Homo sapiens: one gene and its partners. The protein of the gene in region 6 purifies or fractionates together with the protein of the main gene of each other region. This does not show direct contact. Each region holds a gene or a part of one and is shown on either strand. Other genes may lie near its edges.

Evidence for each region.
Region 1: the proteins of ZBBX (region 6) and FAT3 purify together in Homo sapiens (affinity purification with mass spectrometry; 2 studies listed by BioGRID and IntAct, with this or other methods). This does not show direct contact.
Region 2: the proteins of ZBBX (region 6) and AMY1C purify together in Homo sapiens (affinity purification with mass spectrometry, with the first as the bait; 2 studies listed by BioGRID). This does not show direct contact.
Region 3: the proteins of ZBBX (region 6) and DNM3 purify together in Homo sapiens (affinity purification with mass spectrometry; 2 studies listed by BioGRID and IntAct, with this or other methods). This does not show direct contact.
Region 4: the proteins of ZBBX (region 6) and ZZEF1 purify together in Homo sapiens (affinity purification with mass spectrometry; 2 studies listed by BioGRID and IntAct, with this or other methods). This does not show direct contact.
Region 5: the proteins of ZBBX (region 6) and CELSR2 purify together in Homo sapiens (affinity purification with mass spectrometry; 2 studies listed by BioGRID and IntAct, with this or other methods). This does not show direct contact.
Region 7: the proteins of ZBBX (region 6) and URI1 purify together in Homo sapiens (affinity purification with mass spectrometry; 2 studies listed by BioGRID and IntAct, with this or other methods). This does not show direct contact.

What each region holds. Positions count from the first base shown.
Region 1 is NC_000011.10:92,798,318-92,801,817, forward strand, and holds part of FAT3 (protocadherin Fat 3 isoform 1 precursor), read left to right. Parts: coding exon 1-3,500.
Region 2 is NC_000001.11:103,752,898-103,756,044, forward strand, and holds part of AMY1C (alpha-amylase 1C precursor), read left to right. Parts: intron 1-651; coding exon 652-785; intron 786-1,601; coding exon 1,602-1,724; intron 1,725-1,817; coding exon 1,818-1,917; intron 1,918-3,147. UniProt on the Homo sapiens protein: Calcium-binding enzyme that initiates starch digestion in the oral cavity.
Region 3 is NC_000001.11:172,407,998-172,411,497, forward strand, and holds part of DNM3 (dynamin-3), read left to right. Parts: 3' UTR 1-3,500. UniProt on the Homo sapiens protein: Microtubule-associated force-producing protein involved in producing microtubule bundles and able to bind and hydrolyze GTP. Most probably involved in vesicular trafficking processes, in particular endocytosis.
Region 4 is NC_000017.11:4,014,031-4,017,530, reverse strand, and holds part of ZZEF1 (zinc finger ZZ-type and EF-hand domain-containing protein 1), read left to right. Parts: coding exon 1-160; intron 161-756; exon of another isoform or gene 757-898; intron 899-1,064; coding exon 1,065-1,208; intron 1,209-3,015; coding exon 3,016-3,184; intron 3,185-3,342; coding exon 3,343-3,441; intron 3,442-3,500. UniProt on the Homo sapiens protein: Histone H3 reader which may act as a transcriptional coactivator for KLF6 and KLF9 transcription factors.
Region 5 is NC_000001.11:109,256,039-109,259,538, forward strand, and holds part of CELSR2 (cadherin EGF LAG seven-pass G-type receptor 2 precursor), read left to right. Parts: intron 1-2,393; coding exon 2,394-3,041; intron 3,042-3,500. UniProt on the Homo sapiens protein: Receptor that may have an important role in cell/cell signaling during nervous system formation.
Region 6 is NC_000003.12:167,300,298-167,303,797, reverse strand, and holds part of ZBBX (zinc finger B-box domain-containing protein 1), read left to right. Parts: intron 1-3,500.
Region 7 is NC_000019.10:29,980,239-29,983,738, forward strand, and holds part of URI1 (unconventional prefoldin RPB5 interactor 1), read left to right. Parts: exon of another isoform or gene 1-12; intron 13-3,500. UniProt on the Homo sapiens protein: Involved in gene transcription regulation. Acts as a transcriptional repressor in concert with the corepressor UXT to regulate androgen receptor (AR) transcription.

The DNA of each region.
Region 1 (3,500 bases), on a different chromosome or scaffold from region 6:
TTTCTCTTTTCTCAATACTCAGGCAGCCTAAGTGAGGCTGCCCCAATTAATAGCATTGTCAGGAGCTTGGATAACAGCCCACTGGTGATTCGAGCCACAGATGCTGACAGCAACCGGAATGCTCTGCTTGTGTATCAGATTGTGGAGTCAACAGCAAAAAAGTTTTTCACGGTGGACTCCAGTACAGGTGCAATCAGAACAATTGCCAACCTGGACCATGAAACCATTGCCCATTTCCATTTTCATGTGCATGTGAGAGACAGTGGTAGCCCCCAACTGACTGCAGAGAGTCCCGTTGAAGTCAACATTGAGGTGACAGATGTGAATGATAACCCACCTGTTTTTACTCAGGCTGTGTTTGAGACTATCTTACTTCTACCTACCTATGTTGGAGTGGAGGTTCTGAAAGTTAGTGCCACAGATCCTGACTCTGAGGTACCCCCTGAACTGACATACAGCCTAATGGAAGGCAGTTTGGATCATTTTTTAATTGACTCAAACAGTGGAGTACTTACCATAAAAAACAACAACCTCTCCAAGGATCACTACATGCTGATAGTTAAGGTGTCTGATGGAAAGTTCTACAGTACCTCCATGGTCACCATCATGGTTAAAGAAGCCATGGACAGCGGCCTCCACTTTACACAAAGCTTCTATTCCACCTCAATCTCAGAGAACAACACTAACATAACCAAAGTTGCTATTGTCAATGCAGTTGGAAATCGCCTTAATGAGCCCTTAAAATACAGCATCTTAAACCCAGGAAATAAGTTCAAGATAAAATCTACCTCAGGGGTCATTCAGACGACTGGAGTCCCCTTTGACCGTGAAGAACAAGAGTTATATGAGCTGGTGGTAGAAGCCAGCCGTGAGCTGGACCATCTGCGTGTGGCCAGAGTGGTGGTCAGGGTTAACATTGAAGACATAAATGACAATTCTCCAGTCTTTGTGGGCCTCCCATACTATGCTGCTGTTCAAGTGGATGCGGAACCCGGGACTCTGATTTATCAGGTGACAGCCATTGACAAAGATAAAGGTCCAAATGGAGAAGTGACCTATGTCCTGCAGGATGACTATGGCCACTTTGAAATTAACCCTAATTCAGGGAATGTTATTTTAAAGGAAGCATTCAACTCTGACTTGTCCAACATTGAGTATGGAGTCACCATCCTAGCCAAGGATGGCGGAAAACCTTCTTTGTCTACATCTGTGGAGCTTCCCATCACTATTGTCAACAAAGCAATGCCTGTGTTTGATAAGCCCTTTTATACAGCATCTGTCAATGAAGACATCAGAATGAACACACCCATCCTAAGCATCAATGCCACCAGTCCAGAAGGCCAAGGCATCATATATATCATTATCGATGGGGACCCTTTTAAACAGTTTAACATTGACTTTGACACTGGGGTCCTGAAAGTTGTTAGCCCTTTGGATTATGAAGTTACATCTGCTTACAAGCTGACAATAAGAGCCAGCGACGCCCTTACTGGTGCTAGGGCTGAAGTCACTGTTGACTTGCTAGTTAATGATGTAAATGACAACCCCCCTATTTTCGATCAGCCTACATACAATACAACACTATCAGAAGCATCTCTTATTGGGACACCTGTTTTACAAGTTGTCTCTATTGATGCAGACTCAGAAAACAATAAAATGGTACATTATCAGATTGTCCAGGATACCTACAATAGCACAGATTATTTTCACATAGATAGCTCAAGTGGCTTAATCCTGACAGCACGAATGCTGGACCATGAGTTAGTACAACACTGCACTTTGAAAGTCAGATCAATAGATAGTGGCTTCCCATCACTGAGCAGTGAGGTTCTCGTTCATATCTACATCTCTGATGTAAATGACAACCCTCCAGTTTTTAATCAGCTCATTTATGAGTCATATGTGAGTGAATTAGCCCCCCGGGGCCATTTTGTAACCTGTGTACAAGCCTCTGATGCAGACAGCTCTGATTTTGACCGGTTGGAATATAGCATTTTATCTGGGAATGACCGGACGAGCTTTCTGATGGACAGCAAGAGTGGAGTTATCACATTGTCCAACCATCGGAAGCAGCGGATGGAGCCTCTGTACAGTCTCAATGTGTCTGTCTCTGATGGGTTGTTCACCAGCACTGCACAGGTGCATATTAGGGTACTTGGGGCTAACTTGTACAGCCCTGCCTTTTCACAAAGCACATACGTAGCTGAGGTGAGAGAGAACGTGGCTGCAGGAACAAAGGTAATTCATGTTCGAGCCACAGATGGTGATCCAGGGACTTATGGGCAGATCAGCTATGCCATCATCAATGACTTTGCCAAGGATCGATTCCTCATAGACAGCAATGGGCAGGTCATCACCACAGAAAGGCTAGACCGGGAAAACCCTCTAGAAGGGGATGTTAGTATTTTTGTGAGGGCCCTTGATGGTGGAGGGAGAACAACTTTCTGCACTGTGAGAGTGATTGTTGTGGATGAAAATGACAATGCTCCCCAGTTCATGACAGTGGAATATAGAGCCAGTGTCAGGGCAGATGTTGGAAGGGGCCACTTGGTCACTCAAGTTCAAGCCATAGATCCCGATGATGGAGCAAATTCAAGGATTACTTATTCCCTCTATAGCGAGGCCTCTGTTTCAGTGGCCGACCTCCTGGAAATCGATCCTGACAATGGCTGGATGGTCACAAAGGGTAATTTTAACCAGCTGAAAAATACAGTGCTTTCGTTCTTTGTCAAAGCAGTAGATGGGGGCATCCCAGTAAAGCACTCCCTCATTCCTGTCTATATCCACGTCTTGCCCCCTGAAACGTTCTTGCCATCATTCACCCAGTCTCAGTATTCCTTTACCATTGCAGAAGATACAGCCATTGGGAGTACAGTGGACACCCTGAGGATTTTGCCCAGTCAGAATGTCTGGTTCAGCACAGTTAATGGGGAACGGCCAGAAAATAACAAAGGGGGCATATTCGTCATAGAACAGGAAACAGGCACTATTAAGCTTGACAAACGCCTTGACCGTGAAACCAGCCCAGCTTTCCACTTTAAAGTAGCAGCCACTATACCCCTGGACAAAGTAGACATTGTGTTTACTGTGGATGTAGATATCAAGGTATTGGATTTGAATGACAACAAGCCAGTCTTTGAAACTTCAAGCTATGACACCATTATAATGGAAGGGATGCCTGTTGGCACCAAACTCACACAAGTGAGAGCTATTGATATGGACTGGGGAGCCAATGGACAAGTCACTTACTCCCTCCACTCGGATTCCCAGCCCGAAAAGGTAATGGAAGCATTCAATATTGACAGCAACACGGGCTGGATCAGTACCTTGAAGGACCTAGATCACGAGACAGACCCCACATTCACCTTCTCTGTGGTGGCCTCTGACCTTGGAGAGGCATTCTCTCTTTCCTCCACGGCCTTGGTCTCTGTCAGAGTGACAGATATAAATGACAATGCACCAGTCTTCGCGCAGGAAGTGTACCGAGGGAATGTGAAGGA
Region 2 (3,147 bases), on a different chromosome or scaffold from region 6:
ATAAAGACTGAGTCATTTCCTTAAAACAGTGTTCTTTAACCTCCTCTTCTTCACATACAGCATATCTAATTCTTTATCACAACAGGTTTTATGGAGGTACACAGAATGTAGGATACTGATAATAGTTATGTCTTTATTTTCTTTGGAAAATGAAATGAGTTAATATTTATCAAAAAAAGTCAGTCAGATAGTAAATATCGTATTCCTGTGAGCTGTTATTATTATCATTGATGTACAAGACTAAAAATTAGGTAAGTATTCTCACAGGACAACAGGTAACTTTGACATTATGTTTCTTTCAATATTGTAGTGTATACTTTATCAAAAAAAGAATATAAGAATATTACCGATGAAGATAATAAGAATAAGAAAACGATTTTGAGCGTTTCATATAACAAATAGGACCAGGCGTGGTGGCTCTTGCATGTAACTCAGCACTTTGGGAGGCTGAGGCAGGAGAATTCCTTGAGGCCTGGAGTTTGGGACCATCCTGGACGATATAGCAAGACCCTGTCTCTAAAGAACAAAGCACAACAAGTCTAAAATAACTCAGAAATAGCTGAAAGCTAATTTTTATATAATATAAACTTATCGGTTAAAATGCTTTAAAGTCCTTATGCAAAATGTTTTTTTTTCCTAAATTTCTTCTAGGTAATTGATCTGGGTGGTGAGCCAATTAAAAGCAGTGACTACTTTGGTAATGGCCGGGTGACAGAATTCAAGTATGGTGCAAAACTCGGCACAGTTATTCGCAAGTGGAATGGAGAGAAGATGTCTTACTTAAAGTAAATAAATACAACTTTTCCCCTGAACTATTTCATAGATCTGTTAGTCATACTACCCCAGTGCGAGTTATCTTCTGGAACATTCTTATTCAGACAACTATTAAGGAGTCAGTTGTTAATGATAAGTATTCTAGTGCCCTAAACTCTAATCAATCATCTTTTGTATTTAGAGTGTCTGTCACAAGACAGTATGCCTAGGAACGCTAAACTTACCCTAGGAGTTTCTGTCTGCGTACAAGATGAATATACTGGATTTGACTGATGTTTGCATATAATCTTTTAAAGCCAGGTTATTATTAAAATGATCCTATCATTTATAAAGTATGTACAAAGTGTCCATGCTATTGTATTTACTTATACGAATTGGAAATGTAAAATGATTTATATTATAACAATACAATATTAAAGCCTTATTTTAATCTAGTTTGACATTCTGTATAATGTGATGTGGATATTGATCCTTCTGGAGTGCCTCTAAATGATAATGTGCTGAAACCTCTGAAAGGAAATTTTTTAATAACAAACATTTTATATTTGTAATATGAATATAAGTATTCCATACATGTATATACAAATATGGACTATATATATGTAGATTACACACGTGTGTTTGTTTATGAGGTGTGTGTGTATATATATGTGAGTGTGTGTTTGTGTGTGTGTGTGTATATATATATATCTTACAGAGTAACCATCTAATTAGAGAAAGAATTTAATCTTCAGATGCCATGCCTTACAGAAAGAGATGCACAGTAGAGTTACTCTCAAACTATTGTGAAATGATACATCAACGTATATCTTATGTTTCAAAAATAGGAACTGGGGAGAAGGTTGGGGTTTCATGCCTTCTGACAGAGCGCTTGTCTTTGTGGATAACCATGACAATCAACGAGGACATGGCGCTGGAGGAGCCTCTATACTTACCTTCTGGGATGCTAGGTAGAAAACCAAGTTCTCTATTTTTTAACACCTCTTTTAATGATGGTATGAATATTGTGATATTCTATGATAATATAATTATGTAACTTTCAGGCTGTACAAAATGGCAGTTGGATTTATGCTTGCTCATCCTTATGGATTTACACGAGTAATGTCAAGCTACCGTTGGCCAAGATATTTTGAAAATGGAAAAGTAAGTTTTGGAGTTGTTCAAAATATCCTTTTCTCAAGAAAAAAGAGGCAATCTTCTCCTAATTTAATATGACAACTATTAAGTGTTTATTTATTCAACAAATATTTAATTATTGTAAACCTGATACAGGGTTGTGATTTAGTAATGCAGGTTATATTAAAGGAATAAACTTTATATTCTCCATTGAAAAAGAATAGCAAGCTTTTTCAGAGATATGACAAACATCCCCCTAGCCCGCAGGGAAAATAAAAATAAAAATTAAAAAAACCACTTAAAAATAAGAGCTAGGCACAGGGATTAAAATATATACTTCGTACCTTCCTCAGGTTTAATTGGAAGAATATAGATGCCAACCCTTGTAGAGAACTTAAAACATCATCTGCCCGTAGTGAGAACAATATAAATGTCTTTTAAATACTGTTAAAAAGTTATATGGTATAGAAACAAATGATCCAGTTCAGCTGAGTTAAATAGGGAAAGTATACTATAAGAGGAAGGAAATTGTATGTACTAAAGGATAGAAATTTATAGAGAGTATTCCAAGAAAGGTAAGAATGAGAAAAATATTTGGGAGTATGGTAAAGACATCACTCTGCTGAGTAGTTTCAAAAAGGAACAGAGAAATAAGAGTGTAAAGATATTTGGAAAGCTAGTAGAAGGTTTTCTTTTAAACTAAAGGGTTGAGAAACAGCATCAGAGACTTCAGAACTAAAGCAGAAATTCCTCCTTCCTATGAGTCACACAGATATCTAGCTAGCTTTTTTTAGATTCCTTTCAGTTTGAGAAGTCCGCTACTATGTATAACAACTGATTCTATTGTTAAACAGCTTTAATATTTAGAAGGTGTACTTTTATATTGAGACAACTTCTTATAATTTCTACTAATTGGTCTTATTTCTGTTGTTAGGAGTCAGAGAGTTCTTTTATTTTTTCTATTACTATAACATTCCCACTTTGACAGGACTGCTGCATGCTATAAACTCTTAAGTTTTGTTCACTTTTCACCATATGACGTGATTTTAAGGTGAACACTGATAAACTTCCTAGGGTTACTCTGTGTTTTTTAATGAAGATTTCTTAAAGTGCCAATCAGAAAAGCATAATACTAAAAATATGGTCAATTTATAAAAAAAAATGTTCAGATGTAGTATTTTGTACATTTATCTAAAAAGAAGCATGACGGCCTCCAATATTTATTTAGCATATGTCATGTTCAAGGCATTTTCACAT
Region 3 (3,500 bases), on a different chromosome or scaffold from region 6:
TGGTATGTCAAACCTTTGGGGTTTGACTCAGAAACTGCTAACCTTTTAGAGGCTTTATATGTTGTACTGACCAAGGTAGGTTTGTATAGCAGCCCTATACTTTGGGGATCATTTGCCTACCATGGCATATATTTGAAATTGCTTTGGACAAGTTTTCTAGGCTATCTACCAGGTAGCTCATTAAACGTAATTCTTCAGATATGAGATAGTGGGCTTAGACCTAAGCCATACATATTTCTTTTCCCACATTCTGTTTAGGATGACAGTAATTCTGTTGTCTACCATTAATGCTACTACCTACTCCATAATTGCCTATTTAGCTCCTCTTTTCTTCCTTTTTATTTCATAAGACTGCTAGGAAGTGATTTTTTAAAATTAGGACTCCTTAAGAATAAACTTTTCCAGAAGCACGAGGTAGTTTGCAAAGGAAAAGTCTGCACTGTTTGCTCTAAAGAGCTTCTCCTCATTCCAATGTGTTTTGCTTCATGCTAGAAGCATATGCAACAGTGAATAAAAGCTTCTTTTTTTGTTAATCAGTCAATAAATTTGGCTAATTAGTTTCAGAGTTCAAGGAAGAAGCAAAATATCACATCTCTAGAAGTGTTGGGAAAAATATAATTTCTTTCTTTACTTATATTCACCTCATGGTAGGTTATATTGAAGGCTGACATGGAGAATGTTTACTTTTCTATTTGGCATAGCTAACTACACTTTGATACTAACTCCAGTTTTACTATTATTATTTTGGTTGGAAAAAAAATTCACTCTTTACGTGCTAATTTGTAATCTTGTTTTGTAAGAATTTATCCTACCCTTGAAACAGGCTCAGTGTAACTGTATATCCATTCTAGGCTTTCTTAATAAATCTTGAGGCTATGGGATAATCACATTTAAAGAATGGTTCCTGAAATGAAGTCAGTAGAAATGGCATGGGATAAGAGCAGAGCTCACACTTTTACAGTTGCAGTATTTCAAAGTCCCTATCCAGGTCACTCCAGAAAAGGGTATTGAAACGTTGAAATCTAAAGCAAATTTGCAATTTCTTAAGATTTCTAAAATTTACCAGAACAGTTTAGCCTGGGGGTTAATAGTTAAGTCTTGAGGCTAAGTTTTGGACTACCAAGGACCAGATGATTCACATGTAGGAAACAGCCAGAAGCCAACTGGAATTTTGTGTGCTAACTGTTCCCAGACAGCAGAGCAAGTATTCACTGAGTAGGGGTGTCCCATGACACTATTTCATATTCTACAGAAGTAAATCAGGTTTCACCAACTGAAATGTCTCCCTTTGAAAGTAGCAAACATGATTTGTATGTTAACTTAACTTTAATTTCCTGTGTAGTTTACACCCAGAGCAGATACTCATAAAGTATAAAGTAAAAACTTTTAACCATTATTAAACAGAGAACTTGCCATGTTGAGTGCCATTGTATTGAACTTATTCTAAAGGCTTATGCTAACCCATTTATAATTGGTAAAAATCAGAAAATACAAGATTTACATAAAGGTCATTTCAACTTTTAAGGTTACCAGTGATTGTATAAAAACATCACAATCCTAAATCCTCTCGTATCTCACCCCAAACCCCAAACTGGGGGAAAAAAAGTTAACTCTTTGTGAATGGAACCAATGTGCAAGATACATACTGCATTTTTAAAATAGTGTCTCAGCTAAATGGAAAACTGTTAAGCAAACATCCATAGTAAAACAAATAATCTTCAGTGAGATCTTTTTATAAAACTTCTTGTTTTTAGGATTCCCTTTGCTTCTTCCTTTGAATTCTCTAAAATAGGCAGCTAACGGATTATATACTTCAGGGTTTGGCTTTGTGCTAAATGTGGTTTTGTGTTTTGCTGTATTTCAAAATTTTCCTTCTGTTAAAGGAAAATATTGTGAATAACCACTGGTGTGTTCTTAGATCAGCACAAACCATGTCAAAAAAAATTGGAGATTTTTTTCCAATTTTCCTTCCACTGATCTTAGGCAGTAATAAACAATGGCATTTGTCATCTTTGGCACTTGCTTTTAGATTATAGTCCCACAGTTGCACTGCCCCAATTGTCTACCTTTGTGGGTACATTTTTGTTCTTTACTCCTAAGTTATTTCTCATAGAACCCAGCCTACTCTAGAATTTCAGCAGTGACATTGGAGAATATTTTTAATTTGCTGCAGTACTATGTCATATTATTAGTATGAATCTCATTTCCCAAAGGGTTTGTATTCTGCTAAAAGGAGATGCCAATGTTGAATGAAGTCTGAAACTCTAGTATGTGCATAGTTTGACGTGCAGCATGCACACCAGGCCTTAAGATGGGAATGTAGCTTAATGATTTTCTGTTTCCCATACCATTTCTAATCTTTTGTGTAATTTTCTCTTAACTGATTGCTCTGATATTGTAAACACAATAGATGTAGCTCTATCATGTCTAGCATAATTTAAAAAATCAGTGTTTTTAGGATTTGGGAAAATAAACTGTAAATGTTTATTTGATAGGTAAATATAGTTTTATTGTCACATGCTAAATATTGCATGCATATTGACTAATTGGAATAACCATTTACTCAATTATGGACAGCTTATTGAAATAGTATTGATTTAGAAAAAGTATATTGCATTTCTAAAAAACATCTACCAAGGTTACTCGTCTGAATATTGCTTTTAGCCGTGTTTTATAACATAGACGAGCAGTAGGGTCTGTTTATTAGCAAATTTCCTATTTGTTCCAATACAAACTCACTTTATTCTAAAGTATATTAATGAAACCAGTTCCTGTGATGTAACTGTAAGCCTTCTCGACTTAGACTTAAAAAGTGGTCACATAGATTAATTTTGTGACTTTTTAGTATAGACTGTAGCCATAATTCTCAAATATGAAATGGGACCTAATACCAGTATGTGATAAATGTTGATGTTTTCTGTGTACAAACACATTTTCTATGCATGTGTCTCTGTGTATATGGCATATACCTAGTAAGTATGTTTCTGTAAGTATGTGTATTTTATGTCCATTTGAGTAGGTAGGTAGGTTTTAAAAATACTAGTTAAAATGCCACAAGCATGAGTGTGATTGTATGTGCACTGTGTGTATATATATAAATATATGTATATGTATGGTTGTAAATATCTATGTATACATGTACTTAGTATGTGTGGTATCAGGATATTTTTTAAACTGTGATAATACAACAGATAGCTTTGAATGATCTGCCATAACATGTGGTAACAATAGTTCATTTCTCATAACATATATGAGGTATACAAAATTTTCTAACTCCAGATTGTAGTCATTTTGAGAGGTACAAAGCTCATAATTACCATGACAACATGGTAATGTCCATAGACATTTGTATCTGAATCCACAAGAAGATCTGAATCTAAGAAGGAATTACCTTTGACAATATTTTTCGGTAAGAAGTAAAACCTCTGGAGACCTATCTTTAAGATCTCTAATTGGAATTATAAATTATTTTTGGATTGCTGAGCTGAATCTTAAAAAGC
Region 4 (3,500 bases), on a different chromosome or scaffold from region 6:
AGCTGTCCTGTACGCCCGCCACGTGCTTGCATCCCTGCTCGCCGAGTGGCCTAGCCACGTGCCAGTGAGCGAGGACATCCTGGAGCTCAGTGGCCCTGCCCATATGACCTACATTTTGGATATGTTCATGCAGCTGGAAGAAAAGCATGAGTGGGAGAAGGTAGTTATGCAGACTGAGCTTGTGCTCACCCACCAGGTTCTTCCTCTGCCCCACAGGCTTCCTCCAGTGAGTGCTTCCTGGAGCGAGGCTACCTGTGTGGCTGTGCAGCTCCCTGACAGGTGTGAATGCAGCAAAGGTAGGGTCACTGTATCCTCTCCCAAGGATTGGGCTAGTGAGGAACTCAGGGGCCCTGAGCGCGATTTCCAGCTGAACCAGAAAGCTTTGTCGCCATCTTCCCAGTTTCCAAGTGCAGAAATCTTGAGGCACATTCGGTAGCTCCTTTTTGATCCTGTCCCTCACCCACCTTCACACACACACACGCAGTCCATGAGGAAGTTCATTTGGCCTCTCAGCCTTGCTTTGTCCATCTGAGAACACCACCAGACCTCGAGGTCTTTTCCCGGCCTTGCAGCCCTGCAGGTGCTGGCAGGCTTGCTCTAGCATATCTATCTTTCGGAAGGGACAGAGGGAGCCACCCTGCCTCTACTAGGCCCTTGCATAGGCGTGTCCTCCCACAGTTCTTGCCACCTAGAGCTCCCAACCCTGCACCTCACTCCAGGCATCGATTACATTGTGTGGTCATTATTTATCCATAGGCCAATCCACCTGCTTGGCTGGGGACTCCTTCAAGGACCAGGACCCTTTATGATTGGTTCAGTTAGTTCTTTCAGACCACCTCTAAGTAGCATCATTCTGAAAGGACTGCAGTGTCCTGATTGACACCAAGAGCCTGGTCAAGTGAGAGGTGGCTGGTGGAGTTGGTTTTGGGTGGTGGAGTCACAGAGGCTCGTCCTAGGTCTAAGATGATGCCAGCACCTTTGGGTGGAGCTTGGGTTGAAGTAAACTGTCCCTTCTTCCTGATGCCACTTGCAGGCCCTGACCTTATCTGTCTGCTTCCCACCAGATCCTGCAGAAAGTGCTCCAGGGCTGCCGAGAGGACATGCTGGGGACCATGGCCCTGGCTGCATGCCAGTTCATGGAGGAGCCAGGAATGGAGGTGCAAGTGAGGGAGTCGAAACACCCGTATAACAACAACACCAACTTCGAGGTAAGCCTGGGGCCGGCAGGCCCCATAAGAGCGACTGAGCCGCAGAGACCTCGTCAGCCCCTCCGTGCTCAGCCCCTCCATGCTCAGCCCCTCTGTGGCTCTCTCCCGCTGGACAGCAGAGACCTGTCCAGGAAAGTGCTTCCTTGAACAAACTGCAGTCTGCCTCCCTGAGGCCAGGGATTCTGTACAAGCAAGTCTTCTCTTCTCCGGACTTTTCTTGTTTTAATAGAAGAAAATGGGCCACCTAGCCCTGGAGGAGAGCTTTACTTTCCCTGCGGCAGGCTCCTCAGAGTGAGTCCTTGGCTTCACAGTGAGACAGTGAGTCTGAATGTGGTCCAGGTTGGACCCTCACTCTTCAGCTGCCACCTCATGACCTGCCCCCACCGTGGATACTACAGCCCCTTTTTAAAATTTCCCAGAACTGAATCAGAGTCTCATCTTTTCCATCCTTAACTTTGTGCCTGGGCAGGGAGGTAGGCATTTTGATGAGGCAGGAATGGGGCAGCCTCCGTTATTCTCATTGACTTAAGGCCATGTAGTCCCTTTAGCACTTTTTTTTGAGACGGAGTCTCACTCTGTCGCCCAGGCTGCAGTGCAGTGGTGTGATCTCGGCTCACTGCAACCTCCACCTCCCGAATTCAAGTGATTCTCATGCCTCAGCCTCCCTAGTAGCAGGAATAAAGGCACCTGCCACCATGCCCAGCTAATTTTTGTATTTTTAGTAGAGACGGGGTTTCACCATATTGGCCAGGCTGGTCTCTAACTCCTGACCTCAGGTGATCCACCCGCCTTGGCCTCCCAGAGTGCTGGGATTACAGGCGTGAGCCACCTCACCTGGCCCCCATTAGCGCTTTTAAAAATGTTGGAGAGAAAACTGAAATGTTGGAGTTGCCCAGGCATCTACTTCTGAGTGGAAGGCACCTGCAGCAGCGAAGGTGGATGATGAAAACCGATTTAGAACTGGGTTATTGGCCAGCTGAGATTTTGTTTTTCAGAAGTATAACCTGTCTTTCTTCCAAGTCTCTTCTCTTGTCATGTTCCTGGGCTCCAGCCCCACTCCCTTGGTCCCATACAGGCACATGTGGTCAGCCACCAGGTTCGATCCCAAAGAGGTCTTGTCTTCTCCACTGACCCTGGACACCCGTTGCCCTTCTCTGGGGTTCCTTTTGCTGCTACTTTCTGATTTCCTCACTTTTGCCTCAGCCCAGCCTTGCTCCACACCAGCTGTCAGTGATGCTACACTGTGCAAGCCTCACCAAAGCTTTCCAGGGTTTTCCCTGTTGTCCAGAGTCTGAGTGCCTCATTTTCATGCCCAGGGCCTTCAGTGTCTGCCCCTGCCAGTCTCTCTGGAGTCAGGTCTTGTCCCTGTTCCTGCTTCCCAAGCATACGTGCCCATGTAGCACACCCTTTACTCCAAACACGCCAAGCTCCTTGCCATTCCCTGAACATGCTAGACCTTCACAGGGCTGTTACCCTGTCTGAAATGCACCCCATGCACTCAGGTCCACCTTGTCTCCCACTCCCGCCTTCTCCTAACAGGGTCCTCCTGTCCTCTTCACTCTTCACAGCAGCCTGACACTCTTTCTCTGGGGCCCCGTGTTGCCTGCCCCGCTGTGCCTCCCTCGCACCATATTTGCAGTCTGTGCATGCTCCTCGCCCTAGCTGGACTCTGCACTCCTGGAGGCCAGGGCTGTGGTTCACTCATTCTCACACACCCGGGTCCAGCCACAGGACTCGGCATGGGACAGCTGCAGTCAGTGTCTAGTGAGCAGCATCGACAGATGTGTTCTCCATTTCCCCTCCCTAGGATAAAGTTCACATTCCTGGTGCCATCTACCTCTCAATCAAATTCGACTCTCAGTGCAACACAGAGGAGGGCTGTGACGAGTTAGCCATGTCCAGCAGCAGTGACTTCCAGCAAGACCGACACAGCTTCAGCGGGTCTCAGCAGAAGTGGAAAGATTTTGAACTTCCAGGTAGTGAAACAAATACTCGATTAGATAGGTTCTTCACAGGCAGTGTTTAAACTTAATATTGAGAAGGGAACTTACTGGAGAATGTTGAAACCCAACACCACTGCTGCCATTCCCTGTTGCTTCAGTTCCTGATGGGCCTCTGATCCTTGTGTGCCTAGGAGACACTCTGTATTACCGCTTCACCTCCGACATGAGCAACACCGAGTGGGGCTACAGATTCACCGTGACGGCCGGACACCTGGGGCGGTTCCAGACAGGTGTGTGCTCTGGGCTTTGCGTTCACACCATCTGCCTGCCAGGGACACTCCATGGCTGT
Region 5 (3,500 bases), on a different chromosome or scaffold from region 6:
ATCAGTTATGGGCACTGTGTGTGGAGTCTTGGGCTGCTTTCTGCCTGGAGGGAATATCCCGTCAAGGAATCATTAGGCAGATATACCAGGTATACAAGAGCTCTGTGCCAGCTGAGCATCCTGGTGCGGGGAAGTCTGAAACGGAGAGGAAAGTAGAGCCTGATGACATAAATCTGGGCAGGCTTCCTGGAGCAGGTGAGCTAGGGCAGGTTAGAAGACTCAGAGGACTGTGGGCTGGTGTCTGGGTGGGAAGGAACAGCCTGTGCAGCAGCTTTGAGACGAGAGCAGGAGGAACAGAAGTGGGTGATGACAAGCAGGCTTGCTGGTGAGAGCTAGTGAGAATAAGCAAGTGATGAGGCTGGAGGGTAGGTGGGCAGTCGGCTGAGGACATGGCTGAGATGGGGGTCTGCTTTCAGCCTTCCCGGCTTCAGCTGAGCCACCGCTGGTACAGTCAGCCACCGCAAGTAGGTACAACACAGATGCAGAATTTGTTCCCATGTCCCTTGCCTACTCCCACCCCACCCCAGAAACATGGGCTCCTGCCCCGTTACTGCTAGGGTAAGCATTTGCTTTTTATATCTAGTTGGGCTCCCCCTGCTATGTGGTTTTGTTTGTTTGTTTGGGACAGAGTCTCACTCTGTCACCCAGGCTGGAGTACAATGGCGCGATCTCGGCTCACTGCAACCTCTGCCTCCTGGGTTCAAGCAATTCTCCTGCCTCAGCCTCCTGAGTATCTGGGACCTCCTGAGTAGCTGAGATTACAGGCACCCACCACCACGCCCAACTAATTTTTGTATTTTTAGTAGAGACGGGGTTTCACCATGTTGGTCAGTCTGATCTCGAACTCCTGACCTCGTGATCCACCCGCCTCAGCCTCCCAAAGTTCTGGGACTACAGGCGTGAGCCACTGCGCCCGGCCCCCTGCTATGTTTTAAAGTCCGTTTATTCTTTGTGGAGACTGAATAGATTGTCATCCACATCTCAGTGTTTTCTGAACACCTACTATGTGTAAGGCATTGTAATAAATACAAATATGAATATGCCAGTAGCTCATGCCTGTAATCCCAGTGCTCTAGAAGGCTGAGATGGAGGATCACTTGAGGCCAGGAATTTGAGACCAGCCTGGACAACACAGCAAGACCCCATCTCTACACACAAACAAAAATTAGCCAGGCATAGTTGTGAGCACCTGTGGTCTCAGCTATTTGGGAGGTTGAGGTGGGAGGATCGCTTGAGCCCAGGAGTTCGAGGCTACAGTGAGCTATGATCGTGCCACTGCTCTCCAGTGTAGGCGACAGAGAGTCTGTCTCTTAAAAAAAAAAAAAAAAAGACTATCCCTTCTTGCCCTGTAAAGCCATTTCCTCCTTCTCCAGGCCCCAGCTTTCATTTTTTAGCTAAATAAAATTCATTCCCATGTGTATGTGCATTCAGGTGTGTATGGTATTTCTGGGCTTAGGGTGTGTGGGTGGAATGAGACACCAGCAAGTGTGTTTTAGTGCTTAGCTGTTTATAAGTGAGTGTGTTGCCTGGGGGCATAGCAGGCATTTGGGTGTAATGGTTGAGCCAAGTGGGTGATGAGTAGCTAGAGGCCCTAGGACCAGAGAAGAGACTGACTCAGTGGGGCTCTGGGGTCTCAGAGTGGAGAGCTGCCCAGGCCCTTCTATCTCTGCCTTCCGGTCCCCCACCCCGACTCACCCTGTCTCCAGCATGGGGCAGTGGGTGATGATGTCACTGGTTAACGTGGCTCAGCTGGATTTCCTGGGGTGGGGCCCCCCAGGCTACCCACAGCAGCCCAGAGAGTTGGGCGGGAAGAATGCTTTGTGTTGGATGTTGCCATGGGGATAGCAGGTCTGCGCGCCCAAGCAGCCATGGGGCTCAGTGGGAGGGGGACTAGGTGGCCCACTGACCCAGTTTACCCACTCCCCCCCACCCCCGCCAACTCCCTGCTGCTGTGGGGGAGTGGGGAACACAGCCATGGTTGCGATTATCGTGGTGTTGAGGTGTAGAGGCTGAGGGGGCAGGGGGATGATTTTTGTGGGTCTCAGGATGCTCTGGGCCCTGTAGAAAAGTATGAAAAAGACAACATAGGGTTCCCGCGCAGGCAGCACAGACTCTGGGGGAAGGGAGCAGGAGCGGTGGCTTGGGCAGGGAAAGGTGCACAAACATTAAGAGGTGTGCCGTGCATCAGCGACAGAAGGTTTTGGGAAAGGATGCAAAGAGAACTGCAAATCTCATCCCCTGAGCCCTGAAGGAGTGATTGGCCCACACGTGACATACCTGGCTCAGCACCCTTATGCCAGTTGGAAAGGAGAGCCTTTCTTGGTGGGTGGTGCAGGAATATGCAGGCTGAATTGCAGCCCCAGGCTGGGTCCTGACTGTGTCCCTCTCCACAGACGGCGTACACAGCGTGACCGCCCAGTGCGCGCTGCGTGTGACCATCATCACCGATGAGATGCTCACCCACAGCATCACGCTGCGCCTGGAGGACATGTCACCCGAGCGCTTCCTGTCACCACTGCTAGGCCTCTTCATCCAGGCGGTGGCCGCCACGCTGGCCACGCCACCGGACCACGTGGTGGTCTTCAACGTACAGCGGGACACCGACGCCCCCGGGGGCCACATCCTCAACGTGAGCCTGTCGGTGGGCCAGCCGCCAGGGCCCGGGGGCGGGCCGCCCTTCCTGCCCTCTGAGGACCTGCAGGAGCGCCTATACCTCAACCGCAGCCTGCTGACGGCCATCTCGGCACAGCGCGTGCTGCCCTTCGACGACAACATCTGCCTGCGGGAGCCCTGCGAGAACTACATGCGCTGCGTGTCGGTGCTGCGCTTCGACTCCTCCGCGCCCTTCATCGCCTCCTCCTCCGTGCTCTTCCGGCCCATCCACCCCGTCGGAGGGCTGCGCTGCCGCTGCCCGCCCGGCTTCACGGGTGACTACTGCGAGACCGAGGTGGACCTCTGCTACTCGCGGCCCTGTGGCCCCCACGGGCGCTGCCGCAGCCGCGAGGGCGGCTACACCTGCCTCTGTCGTGATGGCTACACGGGTGAGCCAAGGGAGGGGACTCATGGGCCAGCCCTGGAAGGCTGACTGTGTGGTGCAGGCACAAATCAGGACAAATGCTGGCGGCTGCCTCATTCTCTTCCCGAGTGAGGTGCAGCTACACTGAGAGGTCATAAATCCGGCCTGCTCCCTGACAGCACCCCACTGAGGAAGGCAGTGCAAGGAGTGCTTCTCCCTGCTGTGCACAGGACACACAGGCAGTGCCATTGTGGGCAGAGCTGGCTCCAGAGCCAGTCGGCCTGTGTTCGTGTATCAGCTTTGCCGCTAGTAGCTGTGTGACCTTGAACAAGTTACTTAACCTTTCTGGCCCTCGGTTATTTGAAATGGAGATAATGACCGTACTTAGGTCATAAGTTGGTTGTGAGGATTAATGTAATTAATTTGATACTTGGAAACAGCTGGTGGCATGGAAGGTGTTGGCCTTGATTTAAGGGAACGCTGA
Region 6 (3,500 bases):
AAGACAACAGATAATTATCTCCAAAGAGCAATTACTAGATTGACATTAAATTCTCATGCACAGCAACAGATAGCCTCAACAGTGTAACACAGTGGAACATTATCTTTAAACTTCCAATAGAACTGACTAACAATCTAGAATTCTAAGGCTTGCAAAACTTTCATTCAAGACCAAGAATAAAATAATGGCAAGTTTAGAGAAAAATTCAGGTAATTTAGTTATTTCGCCTCTTGAATGAACATCTGAATGATATACTTAAAAAAGGAAGAAATTAAACCTGGAAGGAAGAAGTAGGATGCAAGAAATAATGGTGTGAGGGGAAAATGGCAAATATATTAGATGTATTACAAAATAATTATTAGAATGCCCAATTTGAGAATTATAAAAGAAGAAATTTGAATGAGGATAATATGTACCATAACTTGTAAGACTGTTAGATATGTATGATTAGAGTTAAAAGTACTAAGATTCTGTATTATAAAGGAAGGTAGAGATCATTGTAGGGATTGTTGACTTAGTGTTTTAGTTATACATGTTAAATACTTTGAGTAACAATTAAAATGTTACAGACATAATGTATGTCATCCAAAATACTAAAGGAAAAGGGGACCATAGAAAATCCAATTAATTAAAACAGTCAGGAAATAAATGCATCAAAGGAAAAATAGTATAGTTAAGTATTGGGTGTACAATTCCTCTTGGGTCTCTCATGTTTTTTTGCACATCTTTTGAGCAAAACCACTGACTCTATTTGTTCCAAAGTATATTTTCAAGGGTGCTTGTATAGATAACAGCCTTGAAATATAGAGATTATGTCCCTCTTCAGAGCAAAGACTAGGTTTGTTTACTGTCTGGTGTAATAAAAATAATGTTTTCCTCTGGCAAAGGTCAGGCAGGCTTACTGCCCAGTATAAAATAATTGGATTTCCTAAGATCAGGATTTCTCTCCTGTAACACAGCTCAGGGTATGTGCAGATGTCACGTGGCTCTCTTCATGATGTCCTGTGAAAACTGGGTTCTGGGAATTGGTGCAAATGATGATACTCTGGCAACTGCTATTGTTGTGAGTGATAAAGTCATTTGTCTCTGACCAAGGAGTCTTGTGTCTTCGTCCAGCATCCATGAAACTATAACAGGCTTGCACGTAGGATAAAATCTCAGACCCTTCACAATTCTTGACAGCAAGTAGAAAGAGTAAAGCTGACGGGAATAAACCCAATCATATAAGTAATTAGAATAAATGTGGATAGTGTGTGTGTGTGTATAGTTATTTTACCAGAAACCTGCTTAAAACATGGGGTGGGGGGAGGAATTTCAGAGTAAAGGCAAGCACTAATTTAAAAAAAAATTTAAGGTAATAAAACATTATCAGGGTAAAGGGGACCATTATGTACATGATAAAATCAACTATTTAATAGAAAGATTAAAGGAAATCTGAATTTGTATGTACCTATCAATATAGCCTCAGATATATTGTAGCAAAAATGGACAAAACCACATGGTATTATTGACAAATCCATCAATCCAATAAGATTTTCTATTAGTAAAGATAGAGAAGATTTGATCAATACAAATAAGTTTAAAGAACATATTTTGAACCACATACTCAATAATTAGAGAATGTGTGTTCTTTGTAAGAACACATGGAACATTTACAAAATACATGTTACAACACATTACAAAAATAAATCCACAAAGGAAGTTTCAACAAATGCTAAAGAAATCATATTACACACGGTGTTTTCCAACCATAATACAATAAATTATAAATCGATAGCAAAATGCTAACAAAATTAATACAATTCAAATATGTCTAGGTTTTTTTTTTTTTTTTTTTTTTTTTAACGGAGTCTTGCTCTGTTGCCCAGGCTGGGGTGCAGTGGTGCCATCGTGGCTCACAGCAAGCTCCGCCTCCCGGGTTCCCGCCATTCTCCTGCCTCAGCCTCCCGTGTAGCTGGGACTACAGGCGCCCACCAGTACGCCTGGCTAACGTTTTGTATTTTTAGTAGAGATGGGGTTTCATCGTGTTAGCCAGGATGGTCTCGATCTCCTGACCTCGCGATCCAACCGCCTTGGCCTCCCAAAGTGCTGGGATCACAGGCATGAGCCACTGCGCCCGTCCAAATATGTCCAGGTTAATGAAAAAATTAAAATAGAAGGTAGAAATATTTAGAACTGAATGTAAGCAAAAACATCACAGGTAAATAATGTATAGGATGAAACTCAAATACTACTTACTGGGAAATTTATAATCCCAAATGCAAGAAAAAAGTAAAAATTAATGAACTATGAATCTGACTCAAAAGTAATAAAGCAGTAATAAACTCAAAGGAATTCACTGGGAAAACTCTTTCCTGCCGTTCTCTTCAATTCAGTAGGAGAGGATAAGGAAACATGTATTGCCCTCAGGCCCTGCCTATTTATCCAATCCACTTTCTCAGGGAATCTTTCATTTAGTTAGATAGTCTGATGATTTGCATCCCATTGAATTCCTGGTCTACTCTCAACTGATCAGAGTCTGTCAGGATAGCTGTGACTTACATAGCACCAATAATTTACAGCAGGGTTCCTTTCCTTCTTTTATATGTTAATGCATACTACTCTATTCAATTAATGTAACAGGTGTGTCACTAAGTTTAGATGTTTCTTAAAAGGAAGGTGTGTGACATGAACATATAGAGGGGAACAGCATACACTGGGGCTTATCAGAGGGTGATGAGTGGGAGGAGAGAGAGAATTAGAAAAAATAACTAGTAGGTACTAGGCTTAATGCCTAGGTGATGAAATAATCTGTACAACAAATCTCCATGACACAAATTTACCTATGTAACAGACCTGCACAAGTACTCCTGAACTTAAAAGTTAAAAAAAAAAAAAAAAAAGGCCAGGCACAGTGGCTCACGCCTGTAATCCCAGCACTTTGGGAGGCTGAGGTGGGTGGATCACAAGGTCAGGAGTTCAAGACCAGCCTGGCCAACATGGTGAAACCCTGTCTCTATTAAAAATACAAAAATTAGCTGGGCGTGGTGGCAGGTGCCTGTAATCCCAACTACCCAACTACTCAGGAGGCTGAGGCAGGAGAATCGATTGAACCCGGGAGGCGGAGGTTATAGTGAGCTGAGGTCGCGCCATTGCACTCCAGCCTGGGTGACAGGGTGAGACTCTTATCTCGTAAAAAAAAAAAAAAAGGGTTGGTGGGGGAGATGGGAATGTGTGTGTGGCTGGTATACATTCTTGTTTTATTCAATTTAAGACTATCCATTGCTCAGTATAAAATATTGCTCAGTGTAAAATATGTTCTGACAGAGCTAGTTCAGGAAACAATCTGAATGAGTGTTTAAGTGCATAGGATCCATAAAGTTCTCAGCAGCTCAAAGCTGCTGACATAATCAAAAACCAGTGACTGTTGTAAAATGGCTTACATGGTTATTGTTTTTTTTCAATTAGGTGAGACTAAAGGTAGTCCTGGACAGTAATAAAATAGTGTTAGGTAAAGCTTG
Region 7 (3,500 bases), on a different chromosome or scaffold from region 6:
GGCATGCTATGTGTGAGTGATGATCCCTGCAGCATATGCCATAGGCTTGTTGTAGAGGAGCTGCTCAGTAAATGGTGGATTCAATTGAAACAAGTCTTTTTTGGATGCTTAATGGGAAGTTGTAGGGTGGGTATGATGGACTAAAAATTATTTCTAAAGAAGGTTATATATTGTATATATTCCAGAATCTTCCGTTTTTATCGTTTCTTAAATTAAAAAATAAAAATTTAACTCTGTCCCAGGTTAACTCAGATGTTAACACTTATATAGAAATTTTTTTCCTCTTTCCCCGTTAGGCATCTCACAGTATTTTCTGCTTGTCTGTTTAGGATGTTAGGTAGAGGAAAAGAGAGTGATAGAAGATTTTTTTTCTTAAAAAAAAAAAAAAAAAAAAAAAAAAACTGGGCCAGGCATGGTGGCTCACACCTGTAATCCCAGCACTCTGGGAGGCCGAAGCGGGTAGATCACAAGGTCAGGGTTCGAGACCAGCCTGACCAACATGGTGAAACCCCGTCTCTACTAAAAATACAAAAATTAGCCGGGTGCGGTGGCGCGTGCCTATAATCTCAGCTACTCAGGAGGCTGAGGCAGGAGAATCGCTTGAACCTGGGAGGTGGAGGTTGCAGTGAGCCGAGATCACGCCACGGCACTCCAGGCTGGGTGAAAGAGTGAGACTCCATCTCCAAAAAAAAAAAAAAAAAAAAAAGTTCAATGTTAGTATTTGCTGTCTATTTTAACTTCTTACTTTAAAGTAAAATTAGCAAAGTCTTATTGTTTCAACCTGATTTAAATTTTATCTCCCTTTTTTATTATTTAAAGGTTGGAGTCTTTATCACTGGCCTCAAAGGATGTAGACTTTTTTTTTTTAATAGAGATTTTTATTTTTGTCAGTCACTTTTAAGAGGATTAAAAATGTTGATCCCTTTCATATTTCCTCGTCCCTTTAAAAATATTCTATTATGACAAATTTCAAACATATGGAAGAGTGAATCTTGATCACCTATCTGTCTGTACCCTAATCCGTTAATCCATTTTTTTCTGATGAATTTCAAATTAAGTTGTGGACATCTGTGTATTTCACCCCTAAATACTTGAGCATATCCCTCATTTAACTTGATTTCTCTCTTACTTTCTACAATTTTATGCAAATGAGCTGTTTCCCATAGGTTCTGTCTTGATCTTAATCCTTTAAGGGTAAGGGCTAACTTGTGGTTGTGTTAATGGTCTTCATCGCTGCTGCCTATTTTTTTTTTTTAATTTCCTTAAAACAAAAGGTACTCTCAAAAGGCATATTGCACATGATTAGCAAGATTCAGAAGGAAGTGGTTAAAGTTTCTTACATGCCTTATACCTATGCTTTTAGTTCTTGTTTTGTATAAGGAATGTTGCATGAGGATATTGGAAAAAAATTTAAAATTAAGAGTTGAAGGCGGAACCTGATCTATAAGGATCCATTATGTTGAAGCCAAAGAAGCAGGTCTAGCTATTCTAAGTAAGTAGGCTGGAGAGGTGTTTCTTAACTCTATCTGGGTTTTGTTTTCCATTTGAAGAAAAATTATTTTAAGCAATTACCATTTTTGATTACTGTAATGACTCCTGTGTCCAAAAATTAATTACGTTTCTAATTATTAAAATAGAAAAAAAAATCTGTTCAAATTTTGTTATAAATAAAGACCCCAGACTTAACCTCAGTAATGCATTAGTTCTTAGCATAACTTTTGCATTTTCTGTTGCATAGGCTTTGTGATCTTTAACAGGATTATTTAAGCCTGAAATAATAGAGATACTATTTGGAGATCACTGTTTGACTAAGCCCTGAACATTTCCACGAATGTAGCCTTTAGAGAGAGAGGGTTCCTCAAGCTGTAGTTTCTTCCAGAGACATTGCTTGACTCCTCCTGGCCTCCCTTCATAAAGGATTTCTACATGGGCTGCATTTTAAGTGATCTTCTACTTTTGTATTTTTAGAAAATAATTCAAAATTTATAAATAGCAACTCTAATCTTAAACTGCTCTCCAGTATGTCCGCATTTTTATTCCAGAGAGAATTATTAATAAGTTGAAAACTGATTATATTTGACTTGAAATATTGACATTGATCTCTGGTATTGCCTGTTTTTGAACGTACTGTTCTTTTAATGTACAAAATAGATGTTTTTTGTGAGGAAGTTGTTTTTTTTTCTCCTAAGCATTGTTACCAAAATAAGACTTATTGAATGGTGACTTTAATACTAGCTTCTTAATATTCATAGAAATATTTAGATATCTAGGCTGGTGTATTTAGTCCTTGAGCATTTGCAGAATTACTTATCTGAAACATAAATAAGCTGTTAGTGTTATGTTATTAATAGTGAGTGTTGACTGTCTAGGCACTGTACCAGTCAGTCCTATGGAGACATTCTCCCATTGATTGCTCACACCAGTCCTGTTTCCAAAGCCCCTGAATGGTTACATTCAGCTGTACTGTCTTTCAGCAAGTTATACTATTTGTATCAAATTGGTTAGTGAAATCTTGTAGGTAATAGTCTTTCTTGAAAGTTTTGGAATTGATGTTTTTTGATGCTTCATGAAAAAAATGAGTTTTGAGTTTTGGAACCAAAATAGTAGTTGCTCCATGCTGGGCAGTGTGTTAGACCTTTTATATTTAATTCTGTTGAACCTGTGAGATAAGTATTAGTCCAATTTTGCCATTGAAGTTACTAAGACTAAGGTGAATTTGTGTAAATTGCATGTAGAGCTTGGGATTCACTCTCTGGTCTGACTTCAAAGCCATGTTCTTTCTGGTACATAGCCTTGTGCATGAAGTTTTTTTGCCATTTTATCCATATAAAAATTTTCCAGGAGGAGGATTTTTGCCTTAAACAAAAGAATAAAACATGTTTCGTATTTATTTATAGAAAAGGATTTTTTTTGGGGAAAGTTATAAAGCAGTTGCACACTAGAAAATGAGAAAGCTTTCATGAAGGAATGCAGGTCAGAAGACCTAGCTAGGTTAAACTCATTGCTTACCTCATCTTGATAGAGGAGATCTGGCTTCTTGCTATGTGGTTTTTCCATCTTCCTTCTACTTTGTCTTCTGTAAGAGAAAAATACTGATAAGTGACATTTATTATAGGTTATGTAAAATAATATATATGTGAAATTCCTTAAGATCTTAAGACTGAGCTAATTTTTTTTTATTAATTATGCTACTGTTGCTTCAGGGAACTAAGCAGTAAGCTGAAACCAATTCTGTGATGTTTGTCATTTATATTATCTGGAGAGTTGTTACCTACATTGCAGTTTATCCTGATTTCAATTTGACAATGTCTACATGTTCTTTTAAATTACTTGCTGAGTTGGTGAATTTTTGTTTCTGTTATTTTTAAAAACTGACAACATCCTTCTGCTTAAAAAAAATTCAGTGCTGTAGTTTTGCTTGCAGCCTGTATCTTAGCAGGGAACCCTTTGGAAACCCAGTCTCCAGAGAAAGTTTGACGGGCATCTTGGCATAGGCTGCT